Regions from separate parts of the Homo sapiens genome. Here all the other regions are linked to region 6. The links come from fine-mapping of genetic effects on gene expression. A gene starts in region 6. Each other region holds a variant in brackets. All regions are shown on one strand. Distances are between the middles of the regions.

Region 1 (4,067 bases), 37 kb after region 6:
TGGAGTGCAGTAGCACAATCTCACCTCACTGCAATCTCTGCCTCCCGGGTTCAAGTGTTTCTCCTGCCTCAACCTCCTGAATTGCTGGGATTACAGGTGCATGCCACCACATCTGGCTAATTTCTTGTATTTTTAGTAGAGACAGGGTTTCACTATGTTGGCCAGGCTGGTCTCGAACTCCTGACCTCAGGTGATCCGCCTGCCTCAGCCTCCCAAATTGCTGGGATTACAGGCATGAGCCACTGTGCCTGGCCTGAATTTTTAAATGACACATTTAAGCCAGGTGTGGTGGCACATGCCTATAGTCCCTCTACTCAGGAGACAAGCAAGATGTTGGCTTAAGCTCAGAAGTTCAATACCAGTCTGGGTAACATAGCAAGACCCCATCTCAATAAATAAATAAAAATAATTGTACTGACGTTGTAAGATTGTTGTAAAAATTAAACAAGAAAATTCATAAGATGTCACACTTAAATATCTACCTTATAGGCGGCAGAGCAACTACCACTTGCTGCTCCATTTATCTCATTCAGCATCATACTTGAAATCTAAGACAGTGCAATAAGGCAAAAAAAATAACTGACAGATTAGAAAGGAAGAAATAAAACTTTGTTTGCAGGCATGATTGTATAGATAGAAAACTAAAGAAAAGCTACTGGAACTAATGATCAAATCTAAACCATTTTCTGGATTTTTACATACTAGCAAAGAAGAATTGGAAATTGAATTTTAAATGTCATTTATAATAGGATCAAAAAAGATGAAAAATTTATGGATAAATTTAACAAAATATATGCAAGATCTGTACATTGAGAACTAAGAATGTTACTGAGAGAAATTCAAGAAGACCCAAGAACGATATGCCATACACACGGGTTGGAAGACTAAGTATTAAGTCAGTTCTTCCCAAACTAATCTGTAGATTCAACTTGATCCATCTTAAAATCTCAGCAGGCTACAATTTCTTAATAGAACTTGATGAGCTAATTCTAAAGTTTATATAGAAATACAAGGGATCTAGGAACAGCCCAAGGGATTTTGAAAAAGAACAAAATTGGAAGACTTACCTTGTCATACTTCAAGACTTCTGTAAAGTAGCAAGTAAGACTGTGTGAGATTAACCAAAGAAAATAGAGAATTCAGAAATAGACTCATGTGAAGTATATGGACACTTCAGGTTTTTACAGATGCCTGAGTAATTCGAGGGAGAAAGGACCATCTTTTTCCATCAGTGGTCTTAGAGCTTGGATATCCATATGGAAAAAAACTGAATCTTAACCCTTATCTTATTCTCTGTATATATAAATATTAACTATAAATGGTTCATCAACCTAAGCATAGATCTAAGACAATAAAATGTCTCAAAGAAAATACAGGAGATCTTTGTGACCTTAGGTTACATTTCTTAGGATACAAAATATGTGAACCATAAATTGTACTTTATCAAAAATTAAAAGCATTAGCTGTTTGAAAGCCCCTATTAAGAAGATGAAAGGCAAGTTACAGACTGGGAGAAATATTTGCAAAACATTTTTTTCTTTTTTTTTTTTTTTTTTTGTCTTTTTCTATTTTTATTTTTTATGTTTTTGAGATGGAGTTTTGCTGTGCTGCCCAGGCTGGAGTGCAGTGGTGCGACCTTGGCTCACTGCAACCTCCGCCTCCCAGGTTCAAGCGATTCGCCTGCCTCAGCCTCCCGAGTAGCTGGGATTACAGGCGCACGCCACCGTGCCGGGCTAATTTTTGTATTTTTAGTAGAGACGAGATTTCGCCATGTTGGCCAGGCTGGTCTCAAACTCCTGACCTCAGGTGGTCCACCTGCCTTGGCCTCCCAAAGTGATGGGATTACAGGCGTGAGC[C/T]GCCACACTCAGCCAGCCACTGTCCCAGTCCTGTCTTCTTTTAAAATTTCTTTTTCATTCTTTTCCCCAGAAGCTACAAAACATTTGTTTGACAAAGAACTTGTATCTAAAATATATAAAGAACTGTTACAACTCAATAAGGACACAAGCAATACAATTTTTTTTTTTTTTGGAGATGGAGTCTCATTCTGTTGCCCAGACTAGAGTGCAGTGGTGCGATCTTGGCTCACTGCAACCTCTGCCTCCCGGGTTCCAGTGATTCTTCTGCCTTAGCCTCCCGAGTACCTGGGATTACAGGCATGTGCCACCACACCTAGCTAGTTTTTTGTATTTTTAGTGGAGATGGAGTTTCACCGTGTTGGCCAGGCTGGTCTTGAACTCCTGACCTTAGGTGATCTGCCTGCCTTGGCCTCCCAAAGTGCTGGGATTACAGGTGTGAGCCACTGTGCCCGGCCCACAATACAATTTTTTAAATGAACAACAGATTTGAGCAGATACTTCATCAAAGAAAATGAAAATGTATAGCACTTGAAAAGATGTTTAACATCATTAGTCATTAGTGAAATGCAAATTAAGATCACCATGAGACATTACTACATGTCTGTTAGAATGGAGAAATTACAGGTGGCTCACACTTGTAATCCCAACACTTGGGAAGGCTGAGACTGCGAGATCAATTGCCCTCAGGTGTTCGAGACCAGCCTGGGCAACATGGCGAAACCCCTAGGAAATCTCTACAAAAAATACTAAACATTAGCCAGGTGTGGTGGTGTGTACCTGTAGTCCCAGCTACTCCAGAGGCTTTGGTGGGAGGTTGGCTTGAACCCAGGAGAGAGAGGTTGCAGTGAGCCAAGATTGTGCTACCATACCCCAGCCTGGGTGACAGAGCCAGATCCTTTCTTAAAAAAAAAAAAAAAAAATTCTTTAAAATATAATGTCAGGCCAGGCACAGTGACTCAAGCCTGTAATCCCAGCACTTTGGGAGGCCGAGGCGGGCAGATTACGAGGTCAGGAGATCAAGACATCCTGGCTAACATGGTGAAACCCCGTTTCCACTAAAAATACAAAAAAATAGCTGGGTGTGGTGGTGGGCACCTGTAGTCCTAGCTACTTGGGAGGCCGAGGCAGGAGAATGGCATGAACTCGGGAGGCAGAGGTTGCAGTGAGGTGAGATCGCACCACTGCACTCCAGCCTTGGTGACAGAGTGAGACTCTGTTTCTGTAAAAAATAAATAAGTAAATAAATAAAACTTGCCAGGTGTGGTGGTGGGCACCTGTAGTCCCAGCTACTTGAGAGGCTGAGGCAGGAGAATGGCTTGAACCCGGGAGGCGGAGCTTGCAATGAGCCGAGATTGTGCTACTGCACTTCAGCCTGGGCGACAGAGTGAGACCCTATCTCAAAAAAAAAAGAAAAAAAAAAAAAAAGGCAAAAAACTACAGTGACAGAAGCAGATCAGGATTTTCCAGGGCCAGTGAGGAGTCAGGGAAAGGGTAATTATATTGGGGTTGATGGGATTTGGGGGTTGATGGAAGTATTCTGAATCTTGATTGTGTTGATGGTTACATGCTCTATATATTTGTCAAAACTCATTGGACCGTATACTTACATGAGTGAGTTTTGTTGCATGTAAATCATACTACAATAGGCCGAGCATGAGAGCTCATGCCTGTAGTCCCAGCACTTTGGGAGGCTGAGGCAGGCAGATCACAAGGTCAGGAGTTCAAGACCAGCCTGACCAATGTGGTAAAACCCCATCTCTACTAAAAATGCAAAAATTAGCCAGGTGTGGTGGTGTGCACCTGTAGTCCCAGCTACTTGGGAGGCTGAGGCAGGAAAATCGCTTGAACCTGGGAGGTGGAGGTTGCAGTGAGCCAAGATCGCACCACCGCACTGTAGCCTGGGCGACAGAAAGGGTCTCTGTCTCAAAAAAAAAAAAAAAAAAAAAAATCATACTACAATAAAACTGCTTATTTAGGCCGGGTGCGGTGGCTCATGCATGTAATTCCAGCACTTTGAGAGGCCAAGGCGGGAAGATCACCTGAGGTCAGGAGTTCAAGACCAGCCTGGCCAAAATGGCGAAACCCTGTCTCTACTAAAAATATAAAAATTAGCTGGTTGTGGTGGCAGGCACCTGTAATCCCAGCTACTTAGGAGGCCGAGGCAGGAGAATAGCTTGAACCCAGGAGGCTGAGATTGCAGTGAGCCGAGAT
Region 2 (4,067 bases), 96 kb after region 6:
AGGGGTTTGTAGGGGCCTATGAGCTGCTTGAAATTATTATTAAAAGTTTGAGTGCACATGCAGTTTTCTGAATCCAGTTTTTATAAAAATCTCAAAAAAGTAATGAATCACCATTCTGAAGGGTGACAAGAACACAAGGAAAATCCAGTCCAGCACTCCCACAACACTGACCTTCTTTCAGGTTTCCGCTCAAAAGCTGCTTGTGTCTAAAAACAAAGGTGTAGAACACAGCTTGGCAGGCTGAGTAAAATGGTCCATGGAGAGCAACATCGCAGAATGCCTTTGTTCCCGAATCCTGGTTATTAAGGTATATGTGCAGCCAGTTAACCAAAAGATCTAGGCATGATTTTACAGTACTAGAGAAAAGAAAAATTCAAGTCAACTTTACACATCATAAAAAAACCAGAATAACATAAAAACACACAACTGCCTTTCATTACAAACCATGCTAAGTAAGTTCATAGGTTTCTTTAAATAATACCCATGGGTACAGAGGAAAAGCAAAGAAAGGAAGGATAAGGATGGGTGCGTAGGAAGACAACCTTCCAATTACAAGGCAGAGTAGCTCTGACCTTCTAGGAACAGGTGAGCCCCTAAGAACGTCCCAAGGGATGGAAAGCAGGTTCTCCTAACCATCTCAAAGGCACCCCTCTTAAGGTGATTGGCCAAACAGGACACGTTCACCAACACCTCTCAAGAGAAAGACAGTCTGGTGGACTTCAGTATTCCCTGATGCATCCTAGTCAAGTCCTATGGTGAATAATTTTGTGGTTGGGGAAGGGTTTCAACAGCATCCTTGTCCAAAGGTATCTTTATGGGCCACTGGAAGAAACTGGCCTCCTAGATAGGTCTATTACCTTTAAAAGGGTTTTTCTTCAGCTTTAACAGATACAATAGATTTGGAATGCAAATGAAAAAATGACAAACCTACAAAAAGAATCAAAACAGTATACAACACTGTCCTCTATCCACAAAACAAATGGATCTTTAAGTGCAACCAAAAGAGATGACAAAAGCCTTACATACAGGGTTTTATATATAAAAAAGGAGACACTTTATTCTAAAATCACCACTTAGAAATATAAACATCTTGCACAGAGTAGGGATTTTATTCACTTTAAAAACATGCCAAAAAAAATGGGAGATATTTCTGACTTGAGACAATGCTATACTCTTTTTAAAGCATGATATTAAAAAGTATTCGGAAAATTAGGCTACTTACATAAGAGGAATAAATTTAGCTCTTGCCAAAAAGCTTCCAATATAATTTCCAGCAGCCTGCCTGATGATGGCAGGATTACTTGGGTCCTGCAATTTTTTCCAGAGATGTTCCAAAAATGCCTCTGCGAATCCCTATAAAAAGAGAGGGCGTCGGTGTGATCTTTTTTAATGCCTAAGATAATCTGGCTATCAAAATCCCAAGATTTTTACTTCACCAATGTAGGGAAAAGTTCTACTATCTCATAACTATCTCATGGGCTTCATTTTTAAAACACATTGAGAGAATATCATTAAAAACAAAAGGCACCTCGGGTGTTAAATAATCCAGTGGATCCCAAACCTAGCTAAGCATCACAATCAACCCGGGGCCAGGCACAGTGGCTCACGCCTGTAATCCCAGCACTTTGGGAGGCCGAGGCGGGTGGATCACCCAAGGTCAGGAGCTCGAGACCAGCCTGGCCAACATGGAGAAACCCTGTCTCTACTAAAAATACAAAAATTAGCCAGGCATGGTGGCAGGTGCCTGTAATCCCAGCTACTTGGGAGGCTGAGGCAGGAGAATCGCTTGAACCCAGGAGGCAGAGGTTGCAGTGAGCTGAGATCATGCCACTACACTCCAGCCTGGGTGACAGAGTGAGACTCCATCTCAAAAAACAAACAAACAAAAAACAACAAAAAATTCAACCTGGGAGGTACAAATTCAATAGGTTTGTGACAGGGCTTTGGAATCCACATATTACAAAAACTCTTCAAGTGATTCCAATGTCAGCCAGAACTGGTGACCAACAATAATTCACATCCCATGGAGCTCCACATGGGCACTCCTGTGAGTGCAAAGCACCTTCCGGTCTCTGGACACACTGAACTCAACCACGAACAGAAATACGGACTAACGCACAGCTGGTATTTGAGTTAATTATGCCAATCATGGAAAAAAACAGACACAGCTTCTCACCAAAGGGTGTAACTTCCAACTTCTCCTAAATAGCGCTGTTCTAAAGCTAGGCACACCCATGTGGGCAGACTGAATTCAACCTTCTTTCCCATGACCAACACTCTCCTGATCTCTAGGAAGCCACAAAATCGTTGCAGAGAAGGAAAAGCCTTCTACATTCTTTCCCCCAC[C/CA]AAAAAAAAAAAAAAAAGAAGAAGAAGAAGAAAAGACAAAGCCTAAAGTTTTTAAAATTCTAGATTAATAAGTTGGTTTGGGCTAGTTACAACTCAACCCTTGGAAAGAATAAAGGAAATACAGTTAATTACCCCATATGAGATTTTAATAGAGAAAGGCTTAAGGGAAGAGCACCACCTAGTGACCAAAAGGCAGGATGACATTTTCGGAGCACCTAGCTGGGCTGGCAGGCAGCAATCTGTTTTCTCTCCAAGTGTACTGAGAAGGGAACGTGGGCCAGGCACAGTTGTTCACACCTGTAATCCCAACGCTTTGCGGGGCAGGAGGCGGGCAGATCACTTGTGGTCAGGAGTTCAAGACCAGTATGGCCAACGTGGCGAAACCCCACCTCTTCTAAAAATACAAAAATTAGCCAGGCATGGTAACCTGTGGTCCCAGCTATCGAGAGGGTAAGGACTGAGAGTCCGTTGAGCCCAAGAGGTGGAGGTTGCAGCAGTGGGCAGCAGAGCGAGACTGTGTCTCAAAAAAGAAAGGAAAAGAAAACAAAAAAAGAAAGGAGAATGCGATTTTATTAAGCAGACTAGCAAGTAAGCTCAAAGAAAAGAATTATTTACTTCATGGTCTCCGTCCACCCCAGTTTTTAGGGAAAATTTTTGGGCAAAAACAAAGTAAGCTAAGATAATGTTAATCACATTCTTACTCACCAATTTGAAACTACAGAGGTAAAACATGAAAAACTGTACATGGCAGGAGGCATGGGTGGGCAACAGGAGTTTGTCAAAGATGTTTATCAGGTCGCGATATAGATCCTTTGTTTTGCCGTTATCAACCTTACCTATGGAGAAAATCTGGCATCTCAGTTTTTATAAAGACATATTTTCAAGTTTCATCTGCCATATTTTTTATAAACACAACACCATTAAAAAACAACATTATCCAGCCAAGCACAGTGGCTCCTGCCTGCAATCCCAGCACTTTGGGAGGCCAAAGTGAGAGGGAGCCCGGGAGTTCAAGGGCAGCCTGGGGAACACAGGGAAGCTCTGTCTCTACAAAAAATCAAAAAATTAGCCAGGCATGGTGGCACGCCTGTGATCCCAGCTACATGGGAGGCTGAGGCGGATGAACCGCTTGAGCCCAGGAGGTCAAGGCTGCAGTAAGCCATGTTTGTGCGACTGCATTCCAGCCTGGGTTAGAGTAAGACCGTGGCTATTTAAAAAAAAAAGAAAGACAGACATTATCCATTAAAATACCATTAAAACAAAATGCTACTTTTAGTTTACACAGATTTTCCTCTGAATATAATAATCTAACACCTGCAAGGAAGCAGGCCCTCACCTCACACACTGTGGCAAGGTCAGAAATGCAAACCCTTCTGAAGAGCAATTCTATCATTCGTGTAGCAAAAGACCTCTAATCCGATCATTTTACTGTTAGTAAACAGCTGAATATATAGGCACAAGTATGTTCATTATAACTGTTACTTATCATGGTGAAAACAGTAAAAGACAGTTAAACCCATGTGACCAACAACATTTATTATTACGACTTTTTTTTTTAGAGATGGGGTCTTGTTATGTTGCCCAGGATAGTTAGTCTTGAACTCCTGGCCTCAGTGATCCTCCCACCTTGGCCTAAGTGCTGGGATTCAATAACAATTATTTTAAAACAGGCAATGATATGAGAAAATGTTTATCTTCAGCATCCATGTAAAGGGCAGATT
Region 3 (4,067 bases), 240 kb after region 6:
TAAACTCCCAAAGGCCTTCTATTTATGGAGCCCACTTCCCAATTTGCCACTTGCAAATCAGGGTGTAGACAGCCCACCACTTTCTTATTAGAATTTTAAAATAAGACTGCCAACGGCAAGACGGATATTTCACTAGGGCTTTCAGTACGGCCACACCAGTTGTTCAAAACAGGGACACTCTCCCACGCCAGTCGCTCAGCAACCTCCCCTGCTACCTCACATGCCCCTCACTCTCATTATCCAGGCTTAACACCTGGCCGAGCAAGGGCCTGCGGGGCCCGCTCCAGCATCCACTCTGGTGAATCTGTGCTCATGCCCTCCCGGTGCTCAAACATTTTGAGCACGACCCTGACCACAGGCAACAACTTTCCATAATCCGTTAGTCACCAGCCAGTCTACAAACCCAGATGCCTTCCCGTGGGGAGGGGGATATTGATTGTACATACACAATGTCACACACACACACACACACACACACACACACACACACACTATATAAATACACAACTGCATGTATATGTATGTAGTTATGTATATATACAGTTATATATAACCATATAAAATATGGAAAATTTATATTTCATATTATATTCCATTAACTATATATTAAATATGTATATATACTATATATAGTTTTATACACTTAATATTTAACGTACTAAACATTTAGGACTAAAACTAAATATGTACTATATGTATGTAACTATAGTTACATATAGTACATATTTAGTACTAAATATACTATATATACTAAGTATTTACATATCTAGTATACATAAATACTATATATACCATATATATTTATATATAATAATATATAAATATTGATATAATTACATATAATATATATTTGGCACTAAATATACTATATATGTATAGATAGTATGTGTATATATAATATATACTATATATGTGTGTATATACGATATACTATATATAATACTATATATACTATAGATACTGTATTTAGTATATACTAAATTTACTAAATATATATTCAGTATATACTAAATTTACTAAATACATATTTAGTATATTTAGTATACATAAATATTTATAGTTACATATAGTACATATTTAGTACTAAATATATACTATATTTATATATTTAGTAAATATATAAATGAACATGTACTATATGTAAACACATGTAAATATATAAATGTATATATTAAATATATAAATATATAGTTACATATAGTACATAGTATATATGTAGTTATATAGAGTATATATAGACTATAAACTATAACTATATATATATATATGAACTATACACAGCCATCCCTCGGTATACACAGGGGACTGGTTCCAGGACCCCCAGGTGTACCAAAATCTGTGCCTACCCGAGACCTGCAGTCAACCTTGCAGAACTCAAGGACAGGAAAAGTAACCCTTCATCTACACAGGGGTTTTGAAGCAGTTCACATCTGTATTGTTCAAGAGTCAAATATAGATAGATAGATAGGTAGATAGACAGACAGATAGATAGATAGATACACACACGTATATAGATGCACACACATAGTTTATGTAAAGTTGGTGTGCTTGGGAGATATTTCCATGTTGCCACTTATCAATTTATCTTATCTTTTTAACAGCTACATGGCGCCCAGTAGTACGGATATACCATAATTTAGCCACTCCCTAGTTGATGAATATTTAGGTTATCCCACATTTTCTCTATCACAAAACATACTGCAATGAACACCTTGAACATATATTATTCTGCACATATATGAATATTTCCATAGGATGGATTCCAAGAAGTGGAATTGTTGCGTGTTTTTAATTTTGGCAGATCTTGACAAACCATTCCTACTTTCTCTCATACAAAAATGATGGTGACATGTGCCCCCATTTATCTGGATGGTTTGCAGGAATGAGCCCCCTCAAAGTGGTCTCTGGTCAACACAATGGGTCTCTGTGATGTACCCACCTGCATTTAGCAATCAGAGTTCACAGAGCACTTTCCAGTCTGCTTGGCACACATTCGTTCACAAAGAAGCTGAGGGAAGCTTCATTGCTGCTTCTAAAAAGCAGATTATTCCAGATCCCCGCAAAGCTTCCAGTCTGTTGAGCTACCTGAAAATGACAAGCAGCAACTTCCCTGCAGAGACCTGGAGTCAGAGTTTGGCCATCAATTGCCACCCAGACCTTGAAGCCACTCTGCTTGTCTCTAGGGCAATGTGAACTCCTGGCCATCATGCCTTGCTTAGGATGTCACCAAGTGTCCCCTGAAAAACAGCTGTCAGTCTGTCCCTCTAATCATAGGACCTCAAACCCAGCACAGAGAGCCAAATAGAAAGCAGATCCTATTCCATTCCCTTTATCTCCCTGTTTCCATTAAAAATAAAAGCCTCGGAGCATGCAAGCAGGCAGAGGAGAGGGAAGTATTGTCCACAGTCAAAGCATCTCGACCTCCAGATCAGTCAGCCA[G/A]AATGTCCTGCTACACAAGCATTTTTATTCGTTCCAGGATGTTCTTGAGGCAGCTTCCAAAAATGCACATAACATAACAAAATTGGAAAGTGCAATTAACAGACAAAGTGAGAAAAATGAAAAATATATATGAGACAAGATATAAAGACCCAACCTAAATGCCTACCAATGATAGACTGGATTAAAAAAAAAAAGTGTTATATATACACCATGGAATACTGTGCAGCCATTAAGAAAGAACGAGCTCACATCCTTTGTGGGGACATAGATGGAGCTGGAGACCACTGTCCTTAGCAAACTAACACAGGAACAGAAAACCAAATACTGCATGTTCTCACTTAGAAGCGGGAGCTAAACGATGAGAATACATAGAGGGGAACAACACACACTGGGGCCTATCAAAGGGTGGAGGGTGGGAGGAGGAAGACTCAGGAAAAATAACTAATGGGTACTAGGTTTAACACCTGGATGATGAAATAATCTGAACAACAAACCCCCATGACACAAGTTTACCTATGGAACAAACCTTCACATGTACTCCTGAACTAAAAATAAAAGTTAAAAACAAAAAAAGAAGAAGAAGAAAGAAAGAAAGACCGAGGAGAAAGAAACCTATATGAGGCATTAAGCTCTGCACAATTTTTAGGCATTTGGACTCCAACAACAGCAACAAAAAAAGGCGGATAGAGGGTTCGGGAGATGGAATTACATTTAGTGTCTATATCTACAATGTGCATGAAAATAATTCCCACATTTTGACTTTAATCACAGAGGCTGGGCATGGTGGCTTACGCCTGTAATCCCAACACTTTGGGAGGCTGAGGCGGGTGAATCACCTGAGGTCAGGAGTTTGAGACCAGCCTGACCAACATGATGAAACCCTGTCTCTACTAAATTAAAAAAAATTAGCCAGGCATGGTGGTGCATGCCTGTAATCCCAGCTACTTGGGAGACTGTGGCAGGAGAATCGCTTGAACCTGGGAAGCAGAGGTTGCAGTGAGCTGAGATCGCACCACTGCACTCCAGCCTGGGCAACAAGAGTGAGACTCTGTCTTAAAAAAAAAAAAAAAAAAAAATCACAGAGTGGAAAATAGGAAATAAAGATGGCACAACTTTCAATTTCTCAGAATGGGTCTGTTTCTCATTTGAACAGCATAAAATCCAGCCAGGCCTCCTCTCCAACCAGCAGGCCAAGACTCTTCCAAACTGACCTGACACCCCGCCATACCCAATCTTGGCACCCCACCCACTTCCCCCTCCTCAGGGTGCTGCCCAAACCAGACAAAAAGCAGGCGCCAAGATGCTCCCACAGGACTAAGGCTCATAGTGACCTTCTTAAAAAAAACAAAAAAAAAACTTAGTTGGCAACTGTTAAACATTGGGAAATTGTACATAAAAAATCCTGATCTCTCACTTTTTAAAAAAACAAGTGGAAAAGAAAAATAGGCAACATAACATCTCCCCATAGCTGGAGCTGGGGCCGCCTTGGAGGAGAAAAGGTACCTCCCATTTTGTGCACGCAGCCCACTTTCCTGACTCATGCCCATGCAAACCCCAGCTAGGCAACAAATACTTAAATTTTTTGTTTTTATTATTATTTTTTTTTAGTAGAAACGGGGTTTCGCCAT
Region 4 (4,067 bases), 230 kb after region 6:
AAGATGAGAAAGCAAGCTTCCATATGCAGCAATGAACACTGGCCAAGCCCGGCCTCTGTGTACTACCAGGGGAGAGAGGAGAAACATGAAAACAAAAATTAATATGTAGAAGGCAATGATCAAAAAGAGAGAGACAAAGGGAGTGATGTTGATGGGAGAACTGGGTTATGGAAAAGGATTTCACAAGAATCACCAAGCACATGTGGAAGGTCAGTGCCATGAACAAGGTCCCCGGACACAACCCAAGAAGGAAATATTGTGCAAAATAGATTGGAGTGCCTTCGTCAGTTCAGGCTCCTATAACAAAATACCACAGCCTGGGGCTTAAACAACAGAAGTTTCTTTCTCGGAGCTTTGGAAGCTGGAAGTCCAAGATCAGGGTGCCAGCATGGTTGGTTCCAGTGAGGGTTCATTTTACGGTGTGTAGACAGCAACTTTCTTGCTGTGTCCTCACTTGGCAGAGAGGGAGAGAGCACCAGCCTCTTTCTCTTCTTATAGGGACACTAATCCCATTGATAAGGGCTCCACCCTTGTGATTTAATTACCTCCCAAAGGCCCTACCTAATATCATCCCAGTGAGATATCATCCCGTTGGAGGTTAGGGTTTCAACACATGAATTTGTGTGGGGGACACAAACATAGCTCCATAGAAAAGAGTCTCAGAAATTGTGTCTACCCATTCAATTTTTACCATTCAATTCCATTCCCGGGAATTAGGAAGAAGCAATTAATAGGACTAATAAGAGCTGTCTGGAGGCTCTTATTGACAAGGCTGTGAGCAAAGGATACAAGGTGGGACACAAAACTGCTTTGAAAATGGAAGCAAGATAGCCTGATAGAAAAGGCACTGGGCCTTTGCCACTGTCCTCTGTGGCTTTATAAAGTTACTTAACCTCTCTGAGCCTTGGTTTGCTTCTATGTGCAACGGGAATAATATACTATCTGCCTCAAAAGGTAGTTGTGAGGATTGAGAAGATCCTGCAGGTAATATACACATCAAAGTGCCCAGCAAGATGTTAGAACAAGGAAAACAATCATAAGAAGGATGAGCATGACAATAAACTCTCCAATTGGATAAATTCAAGTTGGTTGTCTCAGGAACCATCTGTCTTGTAACTCTCTGACTTCATTTCCCACCACCCTATTATTGCCTGAATTTGCTGCATTGATCTTTTTTGTTCTTTTTTTTTTTTCTTTGAGACGGAGTCACTCTGTTACCCAGGCTGGAGTGCAGTGGCACAATCTCGGCTCACTGCAAGTTCCGCCTCCCGGGTTCACGCCATTCTCCTGCCTCAGCCTCCCGAGTAGCTGGGACTACAGGTGTCCGCCACCACGCCCGGCTAATTTTTTGTATTTTTTTAGTAGAGACAGGGTTTCACCGTGTTAGCCAGGATGGTCGTGATCTCCTGACCTCGTGATCCGCCCGCCTTGGCCTCCCAAAGTGCTGGAATTACAGGCGTGAGCCACCACGCCCGGCCGACCCTTTTTGTTCTTATTTGATCATTCCAGGAATGCTCATACCTTAGTGCCTAGGTACTGTGGGGTTCTCTCTTCCTAGAACACTTCTCAGAAAATGAGAGAATGTCTTGTTCAAGTGCTATTATATTTACTCATTGAAACCTTCCATAATTACCTACTTGAAATTA[T/A]AGCATCCACTCCACTCCTCACACTCTCTATCCTCTTTCCTTCCTGTATTTTCACATTGGTAATTATCATTTCCTAATATACAAAATCATATACACTTTTTTATTGTCTATCCCCCCTTCATTAGAATATATTCTGAAACTTAGATGAATTCTCCAGCCAAGAAAAACATCTGACACATAGTACGCATTTATCACTACGCATCGTTTTTGTTGTTGTTGTTAGAGCAACCCTGCATTTCTCTACTCTGATCCATTACATTTTAATTTTATATTTTAGCAACAGGGAATGCCTTATTTCTTTGTGGAGGTTTTTTTATTTTGTTGTTTGTTCTTCTGTTGTTTGTTTTTTTGTTTGTTTGTTTTTGAGACGGACTCTTCCTCTGTCGCCCAGGCTGGAGTGCAGTGGTACAATCTCGGCTCATTGCAAGCTCCGCCTCCCAGGTTCAGCCATTCTCCTGCCTCAGCCTCCTGAGTAGCTGGGATTACAGGTGCCCACCACCACTCCTGGCTAATTTTTTGTATTTTTAGTAGAGATGGGGTTTCACTGTGTTAGCCAGGATGGTCTCGATCTCCTGACATCATGATCTGCCTGCCTCGGTCTCTCAAAGTGCTGGGATTACAGGTTTGAGCCACCGTGCCCGGCCTAGGGCATGTCTTATTTCTATATACTCCTTCTACACCTTTTACTCTGGCATTGCAAATTCCTAGCAAAACATCCTGAAGGGTTCATGCTGAAAGGGCAACCTACTCTTCCCATACTATCTTACTGAAACTTGTTCTTACTTCAGTCTTGGAGCTGCCCATTACATGAGCCTTGCAGTGGCTTGGACATCAACCTGTGAGAAGTCGCCAGCATCCAAAATATCTGAGACTCACAGAAGACTCAGCATAAGCTCCTGTAACGACTGTATTTCCTCAACTGCAGGATCAAGGTGTGGCTGTGAATGTCACTCTCATCAGTACTCATTTTGTACTGCTTATGGTTTGTTTGTTTGTTTGTTTGTTTGTTTTCAGGGAAATGAGGTTGAGATCAAAACCAGGACCCAGCTCATGTGATTCTGTATCATAAAGAATATGGAAGTACATGTATGGAGCTCTAGTGAAATTTGCTTGGACTCAGTTAAGATGCAATGGTTTGCAAGTAGTTATAACACCTCAATTCCTGGGACAACTTCCGATTACTTTTAGAACACAGAGACACAATATGGGCATCATTTCAATATCAGATCTTATTTGTCTGAAAATACCAGATCACTAGGGCAATGAAATAAACAACCAGCTACAAACCAGCTACAAATTATCTAGAGGGTACAGCCTCCATTCTCTACAGGAAAAGAGATTCACATTCTTAGTACCAGGCCCAGCAATAAACACCTTAAATATTAATGTTATTCCATTTCATATCCACAATAAGCACTACGGCAAGGTAAATTCTATCGGCTCCATTTTATTTTTAATTGCCCAGGCTGGAATGTAGTAGTGCAATCACAACTCACTGCAGCCTCAACCTCCCAGGCTCAAGCCGTCCTCCCACCTCTCAGCCTCCCGAGTAGCTGGGATGACAGGTCCATGCCACCACACCCGGCTAATCTTTGTATTTTTTGTAGGGACAGGGTTTCACCATGTTGCCCAGTCTGCTCTCGAACTCCTGGGCTCAAGCGGTCCTCCCGCCTCGGCCTCCCAAAGTGCTAAGATTACAGGCGTGAGTCACTGTGCCCGGAGGCCCCATTTTTCAGGCAAGGAAATTAAGGCTCAGAAACACTAATATCATTGCCCAACTTCATGCATATAGCAAAAGACAGGGTTAGAAGTCATAGCTATGTCTTCCTGACTCTAGACTGTGCTTTTTCCACTACAAGGGATGAAATTGGGGAAAATAAACTGCTCAAATGAATAAAATGCTCAAATAAAAAAATACAAATAAATAAATAATTTTATATTTTAGCAACAGGGAATGCCTTCTTTGTGGGTTTTTTTTTATTTTGTTGTTGTTTTTTTTTTTTGAGACGGAGTCTTTCTCCATCTCAAAAATAAATAAATAAATAAATAAAAATAAAATGCTCAAATAAATAAAAACAAACCAATGAACAGGAGTGCTGGTAGACCTGCTTCTTTGCGACTGCTTAATGGCTTAAAGGGCCATTCATTTGGTTTTGAAGCCACCAAAGCCAGGGCAAGGTGAAACGTTTAGTCCAAATGGGTCCCTCACCCCATTTGGGAACCAATCACTGTCCCCTATAGACCTAGTTCATTGAAGGCATTTAACTGAATCCAATCATCCACATTACTAATTGACCTCCACAAGCCAACAAAAGAAAAGATCGGTTCATCCAATTAACCTTGGGACTAGCTCACCCTTGATCTCAATGCTCATCCAGATGGAGAGAAGTCCTCTGGGCCAAGATTGGGAAACTGAGCCCC
Region 5 (4,067 bases), 630 kb after region 6:
GTATAGCCTTTCAATGCCTTGCCTCTGTCATCTCCGACGACATCCTCCTGTGTTCAATTTCACTGCAGACACCCATCTCCAGGGTCACAGTGCAAACCTGTCATTACCCCATCCAACATAAATCATTCAAACCTCCTGAGCATCCCACTTGCAAAAGCAAGTCTGGAGCTGCTGTTGGGGTGGGAGTGCAGAAAGAGACTCTACCCGCTCAACTCCGCCCCTTCTCAAACCTCAGCAGCATCACTGCCTCCTATCTGCTCCCAATTTGCCAGCCCACTCCCTTGCTTCACTCTCCTCTTTTGTCATGCTGGCACTGACATTCTTGTCAATATTTAAATTCGCTCATCCCATGCCTTTTCCTGACGCCCATCGGTAAACTCCCACCTTGAATCCAACCACCTGCTTTCCCTGAACCGACACCTGCATAGCCACACCCCAACTGCTGCTCTCCCAGAGTCTACGGTGCCAACTTGCAGTGAGCTCTCGATACCCCTGCACTCCACGTGACATCCTGATCAAGCCACTCTCCACTCACCATGACAACTGTGGACCTTCTCCCCACTCCTAAGTCCTGAGCCCTGCCTCTCCTCTCTCTCTCTAAGCAGAGATCAGTCCCTCTCTCTAGTGGAAAACCACTCTTGGAAGAGGACTCCCTTCTATTCCTGATGATAAACATCAGACCTGCCCATGCCTGCCCCCAGCCTATTGCCCTGTATACTTCCTCCTTCCTCTGTGTGCTGTTTCCTAGTCTCCCACACCTCAAGGCCCTCCTGTCTTACCCCTTCTCGCCCTTGTATGTTCATCTTCTCTCTCTAGACAGATCCACATCAATGGCTTTCAGACATGCTCAAGTTTTTCCAGGTAGGAAAACCAACAGCCCAAATCCTCCCTTGCTCCCTCAGCCCCACAGCCTCTAGCTGCTGCCACAGCCCTCCATCTTCACAAGCAGACAAACCAGGATGCTGTCCAGATGACCTGGGCCATTTTCTCACCTCTCCTCACTCCTCACCACACTCCAAGGTGGCTTCTGTCTACACAACCAACACTGCCACTGACCTGGCCAGCAGCACCGACTCTTCCCACTGAGCTAAACCTGGAAGTCAGGCAGTCCCTCTCTGACCAGCCCTCCTGCGATGCTGCTGGCCATTCCTCTGCCTTGGCTCAGGGATGTTCGGCTCTCCTGGTTGTGCTTCCTGCTCTCTCACCTCCTCCTCCAACCAATCAGTACCTAAGGAGAGCTCTGAGCGTTCCTACCTCTGCCAAGGTAAGAACGTCTTCTTAGCTGCAGTCCAATACATTAAAAAACAGTGGGGGCTGGGTGCAGTGGCTCATGCCTGTAATCCCAGCACTCTGGGAGGCTGAGGTGGGCGGATTACCTGAGGCCAGGAGTTCGAGATCAGCCTGGCCAACACGGTGAAGCCCTGTCTCTACTAAAAATACAAAAACTAGCTGGGCGTAGTGGCGGGCGCCTGTAATCCCAGCTACCCAGGAGGCTGAGGAAGAAGAATCTCTTGAACCTGGGAGGCGGAGGTTGCAGTGAGCCAAGATCGCACCACTGCACTCTAGCCTGGGCCACAGAGCAAGACTCCAACTCCAAAAAAACCCCACAGTGGGAAGGAAAGGGAGAGTGAACCCGTTCTGGCTGTTTACGGAATTAAATGACACAGAAATGTGTGCAGCTAGTAATGGGCCTGTAACTGAGGGTGCCGTCCTTCATGCTTCCCTTTCCATTCCTTCCTCCTGGCAGTGACTTCTTCTGGTCCTGTGGGGGAGGAGGCCGAAAACTGGCAGCTGCTCTGCCTAGGACAGGAAGGGTCAAGTGCAGTCCAGGACAGCAAACAGCACGAGCTGCCCTCTCTACTACAGCTCTGCCAGTGACAAAGGCCACTCTGCACCCTCGCTTGCTCCTAAGCCTACTCCTAAGTGGGTGAGAATGTGGAGGGAGAGGACACTGTGTGATTACGGGCTCCCAAGAACGTCACAGGCAAAACTCACACTGGAAGGAGTCAAGCTCAGGCCAGCAGTGCTGAGGCAGCTGCACCTCATGACCGAACCCTGGGGTGAAGAGTGACCTCATCAGTTCACAAAGGCATTGCTTTGGCAAGGCCATTCAGAAACACACAAGAGGAAGACCAAAACTCTCAACTTCCAAACCAAGGCTTCTATTACCTAATAAGCACTAATGACACAAAACGAGTCATAATGCTGTGACAGTTAAGTAGTTCAAGGTGTAAATAAAGAAACGCTACAGCACACGCAAACGTCCTAATGAGAATTAGGTCACTGTGAGTTTTATCCCATGAGG[G/GA]AAAAAAAAAAAAAAAAAAAAAAACATTTACCTTCACGACATGGCAGAGTTTCTGAGTTAAAGCCGAAATGGAACTGACATCATAGTCTTGGAGACGAAATGTATAACCAAAAGTTTTAGCATATTCTGTAAGGAGATCTGTCATCATAAGGCAGTTATCTTTTTGGGACCGAAGGAGTTTAACAAACTGGGCAGCTAGAGCTTTGAACCGCTCCACCTCTGTCAGAGTAAGGATCTTTTCTTCTCCACATTCCAATACCTTTGAAAACACACGGGGGGAGGAAAGGGAAAATAAACAAATCACGGGTGTTTACAGAATAGCAAAAAAAGTATGCAGCTAGTAATGAAAAAACAAGTCAGCGTTACTGAATGGGTATAAAGTTTCAGTTGTGTAAGATGAAAAAGTTCAGAAGATCGGTTGCATAACAATGTGAATGTGCTGACCACTACTGGACAGGAGATATAAAGATAGTTACGAAGGTAAGTTCTATGTTATGTGTATTGTGCCACAATAAAACAATTTTTAAAAAGCACTTCAGTAGTAAAAAAAGAAAATAAAATCAACAACAGAAATTTGGTTTAACTTAGCAACAGCGAACAGCTTAGCACTGATGTTACCTCATGTACTCAGACCTACCTTCAACACGAAGGATTTTAAAAGTATAAAAGTAATGAACAAATATTCAGTGTAAGAAATCAGCAGGTGTGGTGGCTCACGCCTGTAATCCCAGCACTCTGGGAGGCTGAGACAGGCGGATCAACTGAGGTCAGGAGCTCAAGACCAGCCTGGCCAACGTGGTGAAACACCATCTCTACTAAAAATAGAAAAATTAGCTGGGCATGGTGGCGGGCACCTGTAATCCCCAGCTACTCGGGAGGTTGAGGCAAGTGAACTGCTTGAACCCGCAGGCGGAGGTTGCAGTGAGCCAAGATTGCGCCATTGCACTCCAGCCTGGGCGACAAGAAAGAAACTCCGTCTCAAAAAACAAAAACAAACAAACAAAAAAAAGAAAACCTACTGAATCTTTTTTTCAATAATTACCCCCAAAACAAGTTTGAATAATCCTTTATTGAAGGAAAAAGCCATATTTATCTAAAAATACTAATGAGTCAGGAATATGGCTTCTCTGACTGGAATAGCTTAGATTTTCATCCTCTTTCGTAACTCCCTACTTCCCAGAAAAACAGGTCTGGAACGTGAAAAAGTATTTCCTATACGTTGTTCAGAAAAATACTTTATAAAATTAGAATTTCTTCACTCACTTGTAAAGTATCAGGTATGGCTTCAAAAAGTTCAAGTAGTTTGGTAAACCCATAGTACGCAAGTTTGCACTGCCGGCCAAAGTGGTGATGGTAAGAAGGGATAAATTTATTAAAGGGCATCCGGAAATGGGGTTGGTGACGCAGCAAATCAACGACATCCTTGGAGAACTGTTTTGTCCTTTCTATTTCATCCTGAGTGCGTTCTTTTAAAAAAACCAAAAAACATAAAATCACAGTTTTTTTCTACCCATTTGTGTTCAACATCCACACTAGAGTAAATCCTTTTGGGAATTTATAAACGATATCATCCTTGCCTTCCAAACACACACAACCTAAAACAAACACATATACTCTTCCCTCTTTGCAAGTGGTTCTCAAACATGTTCCAGGGCAGAACACCAGGAAGTTATGATATTATTATATTATGAAATTCATATATATTCATCTTATAAGCTAGAAACAATGTCATCTTATAAGCTAGAAACAATTTTCTAGCCCC
Region 6 (4,067 bases):
TAGTAAAATTTACTAGTTTTGAATGATACCCATGCTGAGGTGCTCAGAGGTGAAATGTACTAACATATATCGATGGATGGATATATGGATGCATATGTGATTAAAGCAAATATAGGGAAAATTAACTGTAGAATCTAGGTAGTGGGTATATGGTTGTTCACTGTACAACTGTTTAAACTTTTCTACGTTTGAAAAATTTCATAACACGTTGGAAAAGTGACTTGTTTTGCTCAAGCAGGGGTACATTCAATCTTCAATTCTTGAAAGACATAAATCTATCTTTCCTTCTGTTTGGAAAGCTCTTTAGAGAGTCAGAATAATCCCCACAGTACAGTCTAAACCAGCACACAAGGGTTTTTTGGTAGAAAATAATTTTATTAACATAACCAGGCAATTTACCAAATACAACGTAGATAGCTCAAAACATGGAGTTACTGCGCTGAAAATGTGACCCTGTTTACACAGATTTCGGGACGAAGAGTATAAAACAGGAGAGAAAAGGAGTAAGATTGTGGTTGTAGCGTCATCGCAGAGGTGAAGTGTTCCATTGATTGCCACTGTGGTAGTCTATATCAGTTTCCCACATTAAGGTGGGAGGAATCTACTAAGCAAATGTACGCCCTCCCCATTCGTTCGAAACACATTGCAGTAAAATTGCAAAAGTGGCCGGGCGTGGTAGCTCATGCCTGTAATCCCAGCACTTGGGGAAGCTGAGACGGGAAGATCGCCTGAGGCCAGGAGTTTGAAGCCAGCTTGGGTAACATAGTGAGACACCCCTACCTTCTCTATTAAAATGAGATTTTAATTTTTTTTCTCTTCAGTTCATCGGTTAACAAGATAAAAAAATTAATAAAAAATTAACTTTTTAAAACATTTAAAGTAAAGTAGGAGTGGAAGCAGTATGTGGACTCATGGGGCTTGGGTCTGAATCCTACCTAGATCGGCACTGCGAAATGGGGATAATGATCTCCTAGAGCTGCTGAAATAGGAAAATGGAAGAACAGCAGCTGATGTATTAATATTATCATTATTACTACTACCCATTACCTGACAAGTGATAATTGTGACATGAAAGAGGCTGGACCGGTTGTTACAACAATTTTTTCCGTCTAGAATTCGGCGGTAAGGTCTGAGACAACACCTCAGCTTAGATCAGTGCCTTCTCTGAACAGCGTTCACTAAGCAGCCCCCAACCCCAAAACCCCCAAGTCCCCGGGCGCCGAGGACGCTGCGAGTCCTGCGCATGCGCAAGGTTGCCCACTCGCTCACCGCCTCCTTGGCGAATGGCCTGTTCCATTCTCGAGGGATGCCGGCGGGAGGTGAGGCGGGAGACTTGGAAGCCTGGGCCCGGAAGTGAGGTGCGTCACTAGTATTTCCAGCCTTTCACTCCATGAATAGTACTTTGTGATTATTATACTTCTACCTTGATGATTGCAACAGGCTGCTGGAAAGAGTTTGGTGAACAATCCACCGGGCATCCTCCCCCCTTCACCTGCGCACGTTAGGGAGGGCCGGCGTGGCGCCCAGGTACGGAATCCCAGAGGGCTCCGCCCAGCGCTACGGGGCCCCGCCCCGCCGCCTCTCAACCATCAGGTTCGGCAGCCCGCGGCGCCGCCTGGCAGCTCCTCCTCTTCTCCGCCCCGCCGGCCGCGGGCGCGGGGGACGTCAGCGCTGCCAGCGTGGAAGGAGCTGCGGGGCGCGGGAGGAGGAAGTAGAGCCCGGGACCGCCAGGCCACCACCGGCCGCCTCAGCCATGGACGCGTCCCTGGAGAAGGTCCGTGCCGGGAGGGGGCGATGGGGACGGTGCTGCGGCCCGGGGCTCCCGCTTCCGAGGCAACTGTTTCCCAGTCGCGAGCTGCCATTGTGACCCGGACAGGGGGACGCGGGCTGACAGGCCCTGCCTGAGGAGGCCTCGCCGGGAGGGCGGCTGGGGCCCGGGCGCGTCACGGGGCCGGGTGTCTCTTGGGTCCCCGTGGGCCGAAGAGGCTGGGCGGGGTTCGGTGGGGGCCGCGACGGGCCCGGAGCCCAGGACTGGGACCGCGGGGCCGACCTTGGGCCCTGCCGAGGTTCCGCGAGTGGCCGGCCTGAGCTCGGCTGGCCCTTTCGGAGGACCGGGAGCTCTCCGTTGGCGGCCCCAGATGCTCCCGGAAAGAAGCCGCAGTTATTTCAGAGCCAGCTGCAAACCTGTAGGTTTTTCTTGGTCTCCGAGTTAGGAATGAAAATTGCCAAAGCAGTGGTTTTCCAACTTCAGCCTGAGTGGGAATCACCTGGGGCCTTTGGTAAAATGCGGAGGTTCAGTCCCGGGGTCAGAACCTCTGGGGGCGGGACCGGGAACTGCGTGTTTAACCGCCACCGCCCCGCTCCCACTCCGCCCCACGCAGGTGATTCTGATGCTGAGCCTGCGATCACCGGGCGAGAACCTCTGAGTTCCAGAAAGGGGTGGGTGTTGCGTAGATTGCGAATTGAGTTTTGGGGATCGCAGCTGCTCCACAACTTCCTGGCTCCCCCATTCCAGTGGCGAGGAGGGATCCCCGAGTCAACTCGAAATCCACTGGTAACAGAGCCTACCTCTGGTTTCCCCTTGGGGGAACGGCAGCGTGGTGTACCAGGCTGACTGCTCTACCATGTGAAACGGATTCTCATTGTCCCAGTGTTAGGGCTTGTAAATGGAAACCAGTTTGGGTTTCTTCACGGATTCCTGCTTTCGGTACCTGACATTCTGCCCTCCCTCAAAGCCCTTCTGTCTGTTCCAGCTTGGGAGTCTGCTTGTCCAATCCAGTGCATACCCGGTTTTTCATGCATGTGGCATTCAGGAGCAATGCTCGTGTTTTAAGACGGCTACATTTTAATTTTGAGCTGGTAGGAATAATATATTTTGTCTTTTTTCAAGGCAGCAGCTGCTGTAGATTTTGTTCACTTGTCACTGGAGAGTTGAAGGCAATAATTGTAAAGGTTGGGCCAGATGTCTTCATGTGCTCACAGTGGTATAGCCTACTCCTGGGTTGCTTAGCATAAATTGGGTGGAAGACAAGAAAAAGATAATATGGTTTTCTTGTGCCATCTCTGGGGTGAATGTTACGTGTTTTCCTGGCTGGGAATAAAGTCTTTCCGGTCGTCTGATTAGCAGGGTGTCTACCTTTTGGTACTTTGAGTTTGTCCAGATGAGTGGTTCTTAAAGCAGGGGGCAATTTATTTCCCCAGGAGACATTTGGCTATCTCTGGACATAGTTTTGATTGTCACAATGGGGGCAGGGAGGTGCTGCCGGTACCTAGTGGGTAGAGGCCAGGGACGCCTCTAAACATCCTACGTTGCACAGGACAGCCCCCCACGCTGGAGAATTCTCTGGCCCAAAATGTCAGCAGTGTTGAGGCTGAGAAATCCTGGTCAAGATCATGTTTATAACACCAGCAGTTGAGTACAAAACGATGCAAAGTGGTGTTATCAATTTCCTAAGAAGGTGGGTGGGCTTCATGTGATTGTAATTGGAATCCTGAAGAACTGGGGTGATCTTTCCTCCAGGAATAATTAGCCTTTATAGGAAAATCTGCAGGGTGGGTCAGAATCCTGCTTTAAATATTACTTTTCTGGCATTTGATCAGTAGGTTACAGTAGTTGCTCCCTAAGTGTTAATTGATGATAAAAGATCTTAAACTCTCTCAATGAGGATCGCAAGAGGGACTGAAATTCCAGTGTGTTTAATATTGGAGCATTCACAAAAATTGTAGTGATCTTTTAGGAATTCAGAACGTGTGGGCTGGAGGTTTCTGCCTTAGGTCAATGTGAAAATTCTGAGTGTAAGTTTTTCAGAACTATGGGACTTACTTTTTTTTTTTTTTTTTTTTTTTTTTTTGAGAGGGAGTCTCGGTCTCTTGCCCAGGCTGGAGTGCAGTGAGGCGATCTCGGATCCCTGCAACCTCCGCCTCCCGGATTCAAGTGATTCTCCTGCCTCAGCCTCCCGAGCAGCTGTGACTACAGGCGTGTGACACCACACCCGACTAATTTTTGTATTCCCAGTAGAGATGGGGTTTCACCACGTTGGTCAGGATGGTCTCAAACGCCTGACCTT
Region 7 (4,067 bases), 470 kb after region 6:
GCTGCATTGGAGGAGTTGTGAGATAAAAAGGATGGTTAAGCAGGACCACTAGACTTTGGTGGATTAAAAAAGGACTGGCAATATGGGGCCATTGGAGGACAAGGGATGGAGGGAAAGAAGTAGCATTTATTTATTTATTTATTTTTGAGACAGAGTCTTGCTGTTGTCTCCCAGGCTAGAGTGCAGTGGCGTGATCACGGCTCACTTCAACCTCCACCTCCTGGGTTCAAGCGATTGTCCTGCCTCAGCCTCCTGAGTAGCCGGAATTACAGGTACCCGCCACCATGCCCAGCTAATTTTTGTACTTTTAGTAGAGATGGGGTTTCACCCTGTTGGCCAGGCTGGTCTCAAACTCCTGACCTCAGGTGATCTGCCTGCCTTGGCCTGCCAACGCGCTGGGATTACAGACATGAGCCACTGCGCCTGGCCGGAAGTAGCATTTTAGGAAGGCTTGTCTGGCAATGGTGACCAACTGGATGCAAAGTCAGGGGCCCTGGGGATAAGAAGGTCAGCTAGGAGGGTTTGGAATTATCCCATGATGAGGGCTGTATGTCCAAATATCCATGGCAGGGCTGGAGTCTGCAGGAGCAGTGGGTTTGAAAGAAGGGGCTGATCAGAAATCTTGAAGGGAGAAACCCATAGTAGTTATTATGTCTCAGAAGGAAAGAAGGTCTTCTAAGTGCTCTCAATGTGATAGGCAAGGAAAAACCCTGTCATTAGCCTGAGGTCTTAACCAGTTAAAAATATCAGCATCCAGGCGCAGTGGCTTACGCCTGTATTTGCAGCACTTTGGGAGGCCCACGCGGGTGGGTCACTTGAGTTCAGGGGTTCAAGACCAGCCTGGGAAACGTGGCGAAATCCCATCTACCAAAAATATAAAAATTAGCTGGGCATGGTGGTGCAAGCCTGTAATTCCAGCTACTCAGGAGGCTGAGGCATGAGAATCGCTTGAACCTGGGAGGCAGAGGTTGCAGTGAGCTGACATCGCACTACTGCATTCAAGCCTAGGCGACAGAGCAAGAATCTGTCTCAAAAAAAACTGAAAAAACAAAGAGTTGTTCCTGATGCTGCCGTGAGATTAGCATCCTCGCCTTCTGCTTTGAGGGAAAGATGTGAGATTTTCAGATCAGATACAAAGTAACAGGAATAGGTACCATGAATGGGAACCGGCAGCCAAGTGACAGTGTTGTGATGGGTATAGGCTGGGCTAGGTACTTTACACACCTTAAATTTTTGATTCTTAGATGCCAGCATAGGTGAGGTATAACATTTCAGAGTAAGTCACGTCTTTCTGAAACAACAGAAACAAAAAAACGATAAGGCCCCGTTAAATAACTGGTCCGTTTAGCACTACCTGCAATAGCAAAGATGTGGAATCAACCTAGGTGCCTATTGACAGTGGATTGGATAAAGAAAATATGGTACATATATACCGTGGAATACCACCAGCTAGCAAAAAAAGTAAAACTATGGTCTTTGCAGCAACATGGATGCAGCTGGAGGCCATTATCCTAAGTGAACTAATGCGTGTTCTCACTTATAAGTAGAAGCTAAACATTGGGTACAAATGGACACAAAGGTGGGAACAGCAGACACTGGGGACTACAAGAGGGAGGAAGGAGGGAGGGAAGAGTTGAAACACTACCTGTTAGGTACTTTGCTCATTATCTGGCTGATGGTTTCACCCAGACCCCAGATCTCAGCATCATGAAATACACCCTTGTAACAAACCTGCACATGTACCTCCTTAGTCTAAAATAAAAGTTGAATTTTTTTTCTTTTTCTTTAATTTTTTTTTTTTAAGAGAGGGAGTCTCGCTCTGTCGCCCATGCTGGAGTGCAATGGTGTGATCTCAGCTCAATGCAACCTCTGCCTCCCAGGTTCAAGCGATTCTCCTGCCTCAGCCTGCTGAGTAGCTGGGACTACAGGTGCACACCAACACACCTGGCTAATTTTTGTATTTTTACTAGAGACAAGCTTTCACCATATTGGTCAGACTGGTCTCGAACTCCTGACTTCAGGTGATCCACCCATCTCGGCCTCCCAAAGTGCTGGGATTACAGGCATGAACCACTGCACCCAGCCTACTTTATTTTTAATCTCCATCTAGTATTTAGACTAGAGATGGGCAAATTTTTCTTTTTTGTTTTCTTTAAAATTTTTTTTTTTTTGGTAGAGATGGGGTCTCACTATGTTGCCCAGGCTGGTCTTGAACTCCTGGCCTCAAGTGATCTTCCTGCCTTGACCTCCCAAAGTGCTGGGATTACAGGTGTGTGTCATCACACCCAGCCCTGATACACTTTTTCTGTACAAGG[A/C]TAGATACTATTTTAGGGTGTGCAGGTCATATGGCCCCTGTTGCGACCACTCAGCTCTACCACCGTACTCCAAAGCTGTAGCCTAAAGCTGCCATAGACAGGCACCTAAGTGAATGGATGTGGCTATGTTTTGTTTCAGCTTGATTGGTGAGCACTGAAATTTGAATTTTATATAACTTTCCCATGTCATAAAATATTATTATTCTTTTGATGTTTTCCCACAGCCATTTGAAAATGTAGAGGTCATCTCAAAAAAGAAAAAAAAGGAAAAGAAAATGTAGAAGTCATCCTTAGCTCAAGGGCCATAGAGAAACTGGCATTGGTCTGGGTTTGGTCTGAAGGCTCATGGATCCCTACCCTAGACAAATAATAGGCATGTAAAAGGTATTCACATCACAGCTGGCTTTTTTTTTGAAACAGAGTCTTGCTCTATTGTTCAGGCTGGAGTTCAGTGGCATGATCTTGGCTCACTGCAGCCTCCACCTCCTGGGCTCAAGCAATCCTCCTGCCTCAGCCTCCCGAGTAGCCGGGATTACAGGCACAAGCCACCATGCCTGGCTAATTGTTGTATTTTTAGTAGAGATGGGGTTTTACCATGTTGTTGAGGCTGATCTCGAACTCCTGGGTTCACAGGATTCATCTGCCTCAGCCTCCCAAAGTGCTGGGATTACAGGCATGACCCACCACGCCCGGCCATAGCTGGCTTTTTGCTTGCTGTGGGAGGAGAAAGTTCTGGCTGCTTGGCTTCGATGCTATGCTTGGCTCTTCCAACCACCATTTGTGGCTTTTTGCTGCCAGAGCTTGTCATGCTGCTGCATTGCCCAAGAGAAAAAGTTTGTGAGGTTCCACGTTCCATCATATCGATGATCATTTTAGGGTTTTCACACACAAGAGACAGGATTATTGCAAGCAACAGCAATGAACTTTGGAAAACTCAGAGGTTTTCCAAGTGTGAGATTTAAAGCCTCATGCATGAAACTTTAAATTAGTTTAAGGGGGCGTAACCAGCATAAAAAAAATGAAATAGAAGGAAATAGGAAATAGAAAGCTGCATCTATGCTGCTAAAGTTAAGTCTTATTTCCGTGCAACCTTTCGTTTGTTTGTTTTGTTTGTTCGTTTTCTGAGACAGAGTCTCCCTCTCTGGAGCGAGTCTCACCCAGGCTGGAGTACAGTGGTGTGATCTCTGCTACTGCAGTCCCTACCTTCCGTGTTCAAACGATTCTCCTGCCTCAGCCTCTTGAGTAGCTGGGACCACAGGTGCATGCCACTATGCCCAGCTAATTTTTAGTAGAGATGGGGTTTCACTGTATTGACCAAGCTGGTCTCAAACTCCTCACCTCAAGTGATCCACCCATCTCAGCCTCCCAAAGTGCTGAGATTACAGGCATGAGCCACCATGCCCGGCCTATTTTGTCCAACGTTTGTTTTACTTATGCCTATGTGTGTATGTACATACTGGGTCACTCTTAGTATTTCTTTTTTTTTTTTTTTTTTTTTTTTGAGACAGGAGCTCACTCTGTTACCGAGGCCAGAGTGCAGTGGTGCAATCATGGCTCACTGAAGCCTTGAATTCCTGGGCTTAAGCGATTCTCCCACCTCAGTCTCCTGAGAAGCTGGGACTACAGGTGGGTGTCACCACACCCAGCTAGCTAACTAATTTTTTTTTTTTTTTTTTTTTTTGTAGAGACAGGGTCTTACTTTAGTGCCCAGACTGGTCTTGGACTCCTGGGCTCAAGTGAGCCTCCTGCCTC

The links.
Region 1: its variant is fine-mapped to the expression of PDXDC1 in whole blood (TOPMed, PIP 0.99).
Region 2: its variant is fine-mapped to the expression of PDXDC1 in whole blood (INTERVAL, PIP above 0.99).
Region 3: its variant is fine-mapped to the expression of PDXDC1 in atrial appendage (GTEx, PIP 0.98).
Region 4: its variant is fine-mapped to the expression of PDXDC1 in whole blood (INTERVAL, PIP 0.90).
Region 5: its variant is fine-mapped to the expression of PDXDC1 in whole blood (INTERVAL, PIP 0.95).
Region 7: its variant is fine-mapped to the expression of PDXDC1 in whole blood (TOPMed, PIP 0.92).

Annotation. Positions count from the first base shown.
Region 1 is chr16:15,010,094-15,014,160 of GRCh38, forward strand. All of the region lies in intron 8 of PDXDC1 (pyridoxal dependent decarboxylase domain containing 1), which reads left to right. MIR1972-1 (microRNA 1972-1) reads right to left here and starts at 304; the gene lies at 228-304. RefSeq lists a silencer at 2,917-3,022. The variant C/T (reference allele first, on the strand shown) is at 1,857.
Region 2 is chr16:15,069,899-15,073,965 of GRCh38, forward strand. It overlaps RRN3 (RNA polymerase I transcription factor RRN3), which reads right to left. Exons shown (of 18, transcript NM_018427.5): 12 at 3,052-3,182; 13 at 1,223-1,353; 14 at 172-356. It also overlaps a transcript of PDXDC1 not described here. Among named protein-coding and RNA genes, the nearest start is that of NTAN1, 16 kb to the left of the region's middle. The variant C/CA (reference allele first, on the strand shown) is at 2,347.
Region 3 is chr16:15,215,359-15,219,425 of GRCh38, forward strand. No RefSeq gene overlaps it. Among named protein-coding and RNA genes, the nearest start is that of MIR3180-4, 62 kb to the left of the region's middle. The variant G/A (reference allele first, on the strand shown) is at 2,440.
Region 4 is chr16:15,207,545-15,211,611 of GRCh38, forward strand. No RefSeq gene overlaps it. Among named protein-coding and RNA genes, the nearest start is that of MIR3180-4, 55 kb to the left of the region's middle. The variant T/A (reference allele first, on the strand shown) is at 1,647.
Region 5 is chr16:15,605,955-15,610,021 of GRCh38, forward strand. It overlaps MARF1 (meiosis regulator and mRNA stability factor 1), which reads right to left. Exons shown (of 27, transcript NM_014647.4): 20 at 3,569-3,771; 21 at 2,337-2,564. Among named protein-coding and RNA genes, the nearest start is that of MIR6506, 3.1 kb to the right of the region's middle. The variant G/GA (reference allele first, on the strand shown) is at 2,306.
Region 6 is chr16:14,973,447-14,977,513 of GRCh38, forward strand. PDXDC1 (pyridoxal dependent decarboxylase domain containing 1) reads left to right here and starts at 1,580. Exons shown (of 23, transcript NM_015027.4): 1 at 1,580-1,774. The coding sequence starts at 1,754. RefSeq lists a silencer at 446-740 and an enhancer at 898-1,661.
Region 7 is chr16:15,447,761-15,451,827 of GRCh38, forward strand. All of the region lies in intron 1 of MPV17L-BMERB1 (MPV17L-BMERB1 readthrough), which reads left to right. All of the region lies in intron 1 of BMERB1 (bMERB domain containing 1), which reads left to right. Among named protein-coding and RNA genes, the nearest start is that of BMERB1, 15 kb to the left of the region's middle. The variant A/C (reference allele first, on the strand shown) is at 2,316.